Homo sapiens: one gene and its partner. The protein of the gene in region 1 purifies or fractionates together with the protein of each later gene. This does not show direct contact. Each region holds a gene or a part of one and is shown on either strand. Other genes may lie near its edges. The genes, in order: C12orf75 and GALM.

The links.
Region 2: the proteins of C12orf75 (region 1) and GALM purify together in Homo sapiens (affinity purification with mass spectrometry; one large-scale study listed by BioGRID and IntAct). This does not show direct contact.

The regions. Positions count from the first base shown.
Region 1 is NC_000012.12:105,350,887-105,354,705, forward strand, and holds part of C12orf75 (overexpressed in colon carcinoma 1 protein), read left to right. Parts: intron 1-3,819.
Region 2 is NC_000002.12:38,728,394-38,732,212, forward strand, and holds part of GALM (galactose mutarotase), read left to right. Parts: intron 1-1,162; coding exon 1,163-1,304; intron 1,305-3,341; coding exon 3,342-3,516; intron 3,517-3,819. UniProt on the Homo sapiens protein: Mutarotase that catalyzes the interconversion of beta-D-galactose and alpha-D-galactose during galactose metabolism.

The DNA of each region.
Region 1 (3,819 bases):
ATGCGAGATGCCATTTAACTACTTAACTATTTCACTATTTAGAATCCTGAATTCTTCAGATTTCCCTTGACTATACCTCATTCTATGTCCTATAACTTTAAAATAAAGTAATTTATTAAATAAATGACCTTTTAAAAACAAATGCAGTGGATTTACCTGGAAAAAGTTAAAGAACATTATAATATTACTTTTCCTTACACAAAAGGTATATTCAGGCACGTTCAATTTTTTAAGTGGAAGCTATAGATTTATAAATCTTGACTGTAATATTAGGTGATGCCATGAATGAATGACGAGCTAAGAAATTAAGATGACACTTAATTTTTTTATTATGCACATTAAAATTTTTTTTTAAAATCTAAACAGACTGATTCCCAAACCAGAAGGATTGGCCAAAATAGTAGAATAAGTACTGAGAGTAAAGAACTTAGAATAGGGCAAACACAATATTATGCAGACCACAGGAAAGTCTTTGTGGGAAAATGGTTGTTATTTTTGGAAGCCAGAAATACTATATATTTAAAAAATCAATTCTCTAGGAAAGGTCTGCAATTTTTACTACTCGTTTTTCTTATTTATTTGCTGTTTTCTATAGGTGAGAAGTCAGTATATAATAATAAATAAAATGATGTATCTGTCCTGAAGTAGTTCACTGTCTACTAGGGACCAAAATACAGTGTGGTAAGTGCTAATTATTCCAGTGTTCAGAATTTAATGCTGGTCTTGGAATTGAAGGATGAACAAGAGTTCATGCAGAAAAGGAGAAAAATGGCAACCCATGGCAGAGGACAAGCATGAAAAAAGGCATGGGAGTGCCAGAGGACAGTAGGTCTGGGACCAGCCAGCCAGGTGGTGTCCCCTGGAGCCTGTGCCTGTGGTACAGTCTGGGCAGAAGTGAAAGATGAGGTTGATGGGCAGGGCTGGCTTGTGAAGGGCCTTGGGTGCAAGGCCAATAATCGTGCTTGTTTTTTTTTATGCATTCAAGGGCTGATAGAGATTTTAAGGTGGAGGAATTAAATGATTATGTTTGAGTTTTAGGGCAGTAACTCCCAAAGCAGTGTGACACATGGGATGAGGGAGGGTGCAGGCACAGAGGAATAATGGAAGTGAGGCTACAAGAGGGTCAGATAGCAGAGGGAAAGGAGAAGAGGTGATACAAACAAGATGCATTAGAAAATGTAATTAATAAGATTTGTTTAATGACTGAACGGGGAAGGAAAGGAAAGGAAACTCTGAGGATAATGCTGCAGTCAAACTTGAGCCAAGGGAAGCGATGGCTGATAGTCCAAAGAGGTCATGGGGGGCTGAAGGAGGAAGAGAAGTCATTGCGTGTGTCATGATGGCCACATTGGTCACCCTGGGGACTGTAGTTTCAGTTGAGCAGGGTGAATGATAACCAAGTCAAAGTGGAAGTGAGCCAGGTGCAAGGAAGTGGAGAGAGTGATGTGGGTCTTTGGTTTTTATGCTGTTTGGCGGTAAGGAATGGAGGGATGTTGGTGGCTTTAAGAGGAGGCAAATTTTCAGAATATACTGTATTAGAAAAAGAATACCAAGGAAATTTGGAAAGTACAGGAAAGTATTTTTTAAGAGAAAAATTCAGTTATTATTCTACCACCAGAGACAATCATTATGAACATTTTACACTTTTCTTCAAGTGTTTTTTGGTTGTTTCTGCCCAGTTGTGAGTATGGTTGATTTTGTGTATTGAAGTTTGTTTTTCCTTTTGTCTTTTTTTAAAAATTATTTTTTGGCATGGAGGAGGCATGGATATTGCTGTAGGCTAAAAGACAGGAACCAGGCGAGTAAGAAAAGCTGATGGTGGTTTGGGGAGGGGGTTTCTCTCTGGTGGTGGAGAGAATAACGATGCATGTAAATCCTATGACAGGCTAGAGAACTCAAAACCTAGCTAGGTTAACCTTCAACACTTGAAAGCATGGTTGACAATGTCTAGAAACTTAATCACCATAAGAAAAAGCCTACATGTGTATCAGAAAACAAGCCTATTTTTCCCTCTCTTTCTGTCTCTTTGAAATTAAATCACAGTGCAGTAACACACTGAACAAAACAAACAAAACAGTGAATTCAAGGTAATGACATTCGGCCGCTTTCACAAACCTGCCAACATCAACCATGTTCTTATTTTAGTGTGGCAGATTCTCAGCTATTTGGCACAAATAGGCTGCGTTGGGATATTTTTGGTAGGAAATGGCAGAAGCCCAGTTTAAACTGGCCTAAACAAACAAACACAAAGGAATTTATTGGCATGTGGAGTGGAAAAGCTCCAGGGACTTGGCTGTAGTCACAGCTGGATCCAGGTGATCAAACAACAGGAAGAAATTCTCTTCTCTGCTTTCGTCTTCATTCTTAGGCAGCTTTCCTCAAGTGGTGACAAACAGGACCAGTTTATATCTTATCAGCTTCCTAATTCCTGTGGAAAAAAGCAGCTTCTTTTTCCTTGTAGTTTGATCAAAAGTCCTAGGGCTGGGCTCTCTTGGCCCGTTGGGGTCATGTTCCTATCTCGGAATCAGTCAGTGGGCCAGGAGAATGTGGGGTGCTCATTGGCCAGGCTGCAGTCATGTGCTCACCACTGGAGCCAATCAGTATCATCAGCCCCACCTTACCATATGGCCAAAGAGCAGAAGAGGGGTGATTCCCCACGGAAAAATTGGGATGCCGTTACCAAAAAAAAGGGGAGAAATTGTAAGTGGGCAAACCGAAACAATTGGAATTTAATTGAAAGCATTTTTTTTTGTAGATCAATTTTCGTGTTCTTAAAGAAGTCTTGATTTAAAGCTTAAGCAATATTTATAAGAATATTATGACTACGTTTCAAATAAGAAACAGTATTAAATAAGTTGACTCAAATATAATGTTTGCTGTTGAAAATAAAAAACCATAGCTACTCAATGTAAACAATGTAATTCAAATACTTCTTTCACTTAAAACATGTAAAGTGAATCTTACTGAGATTCTTTCCTTGGTAAAGCTATTTTATTATTATGGAAGGTAGCAAATACAGGGAAAAATATTTTGGAATGAAATGACATAAAACCCATTGGCAATTTGTTTTTGTTTTTGTGTTTGGAAAAAAGAAATGATAAATCTTTTATGTTGAGTTTCTTGGGATCCTTTATAAATTTACCATGTCTAATGCACCCATGTCAGCTGAGCCCTCTCTGCTCCTCATAGATACAGACCTTAGGGTATCTGATGGGCTCTTTTCTCATCCATGTAGTAGAAGGTAACGCTGTCTTCTGAGGGTGAAGAGGATGGGGTTGAAGTAGCATTGAAAAAGCCTGCATTTTGGAAGCAGAGGGACTTGTGTTTAAAATCCCCTTCACCATTTGCTAGCTGTGTTACATTGTGTCCTTAGTATAATTATCTGTGAAATTGGGATAATATAATAACTGTGCAGGGTGATCATCTTCATCATCATCATTCTTACAGTAGTAGCTAATCTTTACTGAGGACTGTGCACCATACACTGATTTCCAGCATTTTCTGTACGTTATCTCCTTCCATACCCATGATAATCTGATGGACAGAATAATGATGTTTCATTTTACAAGTGAGGAGGTGGGGAGCACAGAGAGCTGAAGTAGCTGCTGGAGGGACAGATTACAAATACAGTATATTTAATATCCTAGGAAAATACTTGGCATTATGCTTGTTGCCCCCGGTGAATGACAGCTAGAATTATTAGTTAGTTTAAAATGTTGTTGAAAAAATTTGGCAGGGCCTCTGACATGAATACTTGATGGCAGAAGACCCAGCATATTGAGGGCCTTGCTGTGGTTAGAAATCATATATTCCCATTGG
Region 2 (3,819 bases), on another chromosome or scaffold:
AAAAAAAAAAACTTTTTTTTTGGCTGGGTGCAGTGGCTCACGCCTATAATACTAGCACTTTGGGAGGCCGAGGTGGGCAGATCACCTGTCAGGAGTTCACGACCAGCCTGGCCAACATGGTGAAACCCCGTCTCTACTAAAAATACAAAAGCATGGTGGTGTGCACCTGTAATCCCAGCTACTCATGAGGCTGAGACAGAAGAATCACTTGAACCCAGGAGGCGGAGGTTGCACTGAGCTGAGATCGCGCCACTGCGCTCCAGCCTGGGTGACAGAGCAAGACTCCATCTCAAAAAACAAAACAAAACAAAACAAAACAAAAACTCAACCGTAACATTGTTTAAGCCTCTGAAACAGAGCCCTTTTCTTTTCCTCTTCAAGAAAAAATGGCTGGAGTGATTTGGCCTGCTACAGAGGAAACTGGTATTCTCTGTACTTGGTACAAGGTTCTAGCACCTGGCTGTTACTACTCCTGGGTGGGCCATAATTTTAAGAGGAAGTGGACCTCTGCCATCATCTTATCCTGGGGTTTTCCACCTGCGCTGCTCAGAACCTGTACTTGATTCAGCTAGAACAACTCTGGCTTTTATGTATATGTTACTATATATTTATGAGTATATATTTTCCATTGTCCCTTGGAATCCATGGAGGATTGGTTCCAGGACCCCCTACTGATACTTAAATCATTAGATACTCTAGTTCCTTCTATAAAATGGTGCAGTATTTGCATATAACCTGAGCCCATACTCCCATATACTCTATTTATTTGAGGGTTTTTTTTTTCTCTTCCCCACCCTCTCCATATTTGTTTTTTAAGACAGTCTCATTCTGTTACCTATGCTGGAGTGCAGTGGTGCAATCATGGTTCACTGTAGCCTCGACCTCCTGGGCTCAAGCAATCCTCCTGCCTCAGCCTCCTGAGTAGCTGAGACCACAGGGACACATCACTATGCCTGGCTAATTTTTTACATTTATTTATTTATTTATTTTATTATTTTGGTAGAGATGGGGTCTCTGCATGTTTCCCAGGATCTGGGCTCCCATCTCCTTAACAAATTAAAATGAAGGCGGAGAGAGTAGAACCAGTGAGCCTTTGTGGAGGCTCTATATAAAGATGAGACTTGGGCATTTATCACCTTTGTTTTCTGTCTCTTCCCATCAGGAGAAGTTGCCCCAGTGCAAGGCACTGCATTCGACCTGAGAAAGCCAGTGGAGCTTGGAAAACACCTGCAGGACTTCCATCTCAATGGTTTTGACCACAATTTCTGTCTGAAGGGATCTAAAGAAAAGCATTTTTGTGCAAGGTCAGGTACTTTTCACTTCCTGAGTCTGTAAGGAAGAAATGACACCAAGTCCTATTTTCCTTTGGAGCTTTTCCTCTGGCCATATCAATAGCATTTACTATGCTACAAGTGACCCAATACCACATCCCATATTTTCTCAAAGCTCCCATGGCACAGGTGAGCTCTGTAGAATTTATCCCAGTCCCCCACCTGCCATTACCCCTATTCCCCCTGCTTGGCACCCGCTCTCTCCCTCTCTGCCTGTTCTTTAAGGCCCATTTTCTGTTAGAAGCCTTAACTCTTCCTAGTGAAGTCACCTCGGCTGTCACTGAACTTCCAGAGCCTTTGTGCTTTCTCGATCTGTGACTTATGCCTGCCTACTCCATGGCCAGTTGGAGGCTAGGCATCTCCTGCAGCACTCACCGCCTCCAGCCTTGACCGATAGACACTTGTGTGCACGCTCTCGCCTTCTCACCAAATCCCAGTTCCTCATGCCATTTCATCTTTGTGAAGCCCTACCTCTACCCCAACACCTAATATCATCCTTGGCACTAGCAAATAATGAATAAATGTTTGCAGAATTAACAGTTTTGTGTGTGTGCGTGTGTGTGACGGAGTCTTGCTCTGTCGCCCAGACTGGAATGCAGTGGTGCGATCTAGGTTTACTGCAACCTCCGCCTCCCGGGTTCAAGTGATTCTCCTGCCTCAGCCTCCTGAGTAGCTGGGATAACAGGCACGTGCCACTATGCCCAGCTAATTTTTGTATTTTTAGTAGAGATGGGGTTTCACAATGTTGGTCAGGCTGGTCTTGAACTCCTGACCTTGTAATCCACCCACCTCGGCCTCCCAAAGTGCTGGGATTACAGGTGTAAGCCACTGCACCCGGTCAACAGTTTTTAAATAAAGCAGAAAAAATGACTCAAACCAAATAGTGACAGAAAGAAGATCAAAGACCTTCTCCGGGCTGGGCGTGGTGGCTCATGCCTGTAATCCCAGCACTTTAGGTGGCTGAGGTGGGCAGATCACTTGAGGTCAGGAGTTTGAGACCAGCCTCGCCAACATGGTGAAACGCCGTCTCTACTAAAAATATAAAAATTAGCCAGGCATGGTGGTGGGCACCTATAATCTCAGCTACTCAGGAGGCTGAGGCAGGAGAATCACTTGAACCCAGGGGGTGGAAGTTGTAGTGAGCCGAGATCACGCCACTGCACTCCAGGCTAGGCAACAGAGCAAAACTCCATCTCAAAAAAAAAAAAAGAATCTCAGGCCAGGTGCAGTGGCTCTCATGCCTGTAATCCCAGCACTTTTGGAGGCTGAGGTGGTCAGATCACCTGAGGTCAGTAGTTCAAGACCAGTTGGGCCAACATGATGAAACCCCGACAATACTAAAAGTACAAAAAATTAGCCGGATGTGGTGGCAGGTACCTGTAATCCCAGCTACTCTAGAGGCTGAGGCAGGAGAATTGCTTTAACCAAGGGGGCGGAGGTTGCAGTGAGCCAAGATCGCACCACTGCACTCCTCCCTGGGTGACAGAGCCAGACTCCATCTCAAAACAAACAAACAAACAAAAATTAGCTGGACATGGTAGTGCGCACCTGCAGTCCCAGCTACTGGGGAGCTGAAGTGGGAGAATTGCTTGAGCCCGGGAGGCTGAGGTTGCAGTGAGCCGAGGTCGCGCCACTGCACTCCAGCCTGGGCAATAGAGAAAGACTCTATTTCAAAAAAAAAAAAAAAAAAAAAAAGAATCTCAGCCTCTCCAGGACCTTCCTCTCTCCAACCTGGCTGCTGCCTTCCTCCCTACTCCCCAGCTGGCAGGAGTGAGTCTGTTTTGTGATGCCCCAAAGAAGCTACTGAGGATCCTGAAAGCCACCTGCTCATGCCTTGCCTTTGAGACTGGAAGAATTTTCCATCATGCTCTTCCTACCTTCATCTCCTCCTTATATCTTGTCCCTGCTCTGTGGCTGGGTCTGATTCCTGTCTCAAAGCCGCTTCCCAGCTTCTACTCCTCCCCACCTGCTTTTCTGCCCTGGACTCATGTTGTTTGTATTTCTTACCAGGGTGCATCATGCTGCAAGCGGGCGGGTACTAGAAGTATACACCACCCAGCCCGGGGTCCAGTTTTACACGGGCAACTTCCTGGATGGCACATTAAAGGGCAAGAATGGAGCTGTCTATCCCAAGCACTCCGGTTTCTGCCTGGAGACTCAGAACTGGCCTGATGCAGTCAATCAGGTAATGCCACAGGCTGGCTTTTCAGAGTAGAGTTGTGTCCAAGGTCACACTGTACGACAGAGTTCACTACACTCGAATCAGCTTGTATGATTCAAAAGTTCATGCTTTGTTTGTTTGGTTTGTTTTTTGAGACAGAGTCTCACTCTTGTCGCCTAGGCTGTAGTGCAGTGGCACGATCTCAGCTCACTGCAACCTCCGCCTCCTGGGCACGATCTCAGCTCACTGCAACCTCCGCCTCCTGGGTCCAAGCGATTCTCCTGCCCCAGCCTTCCAAGTAGCTAGGATTACAGGCGCCTACCACCA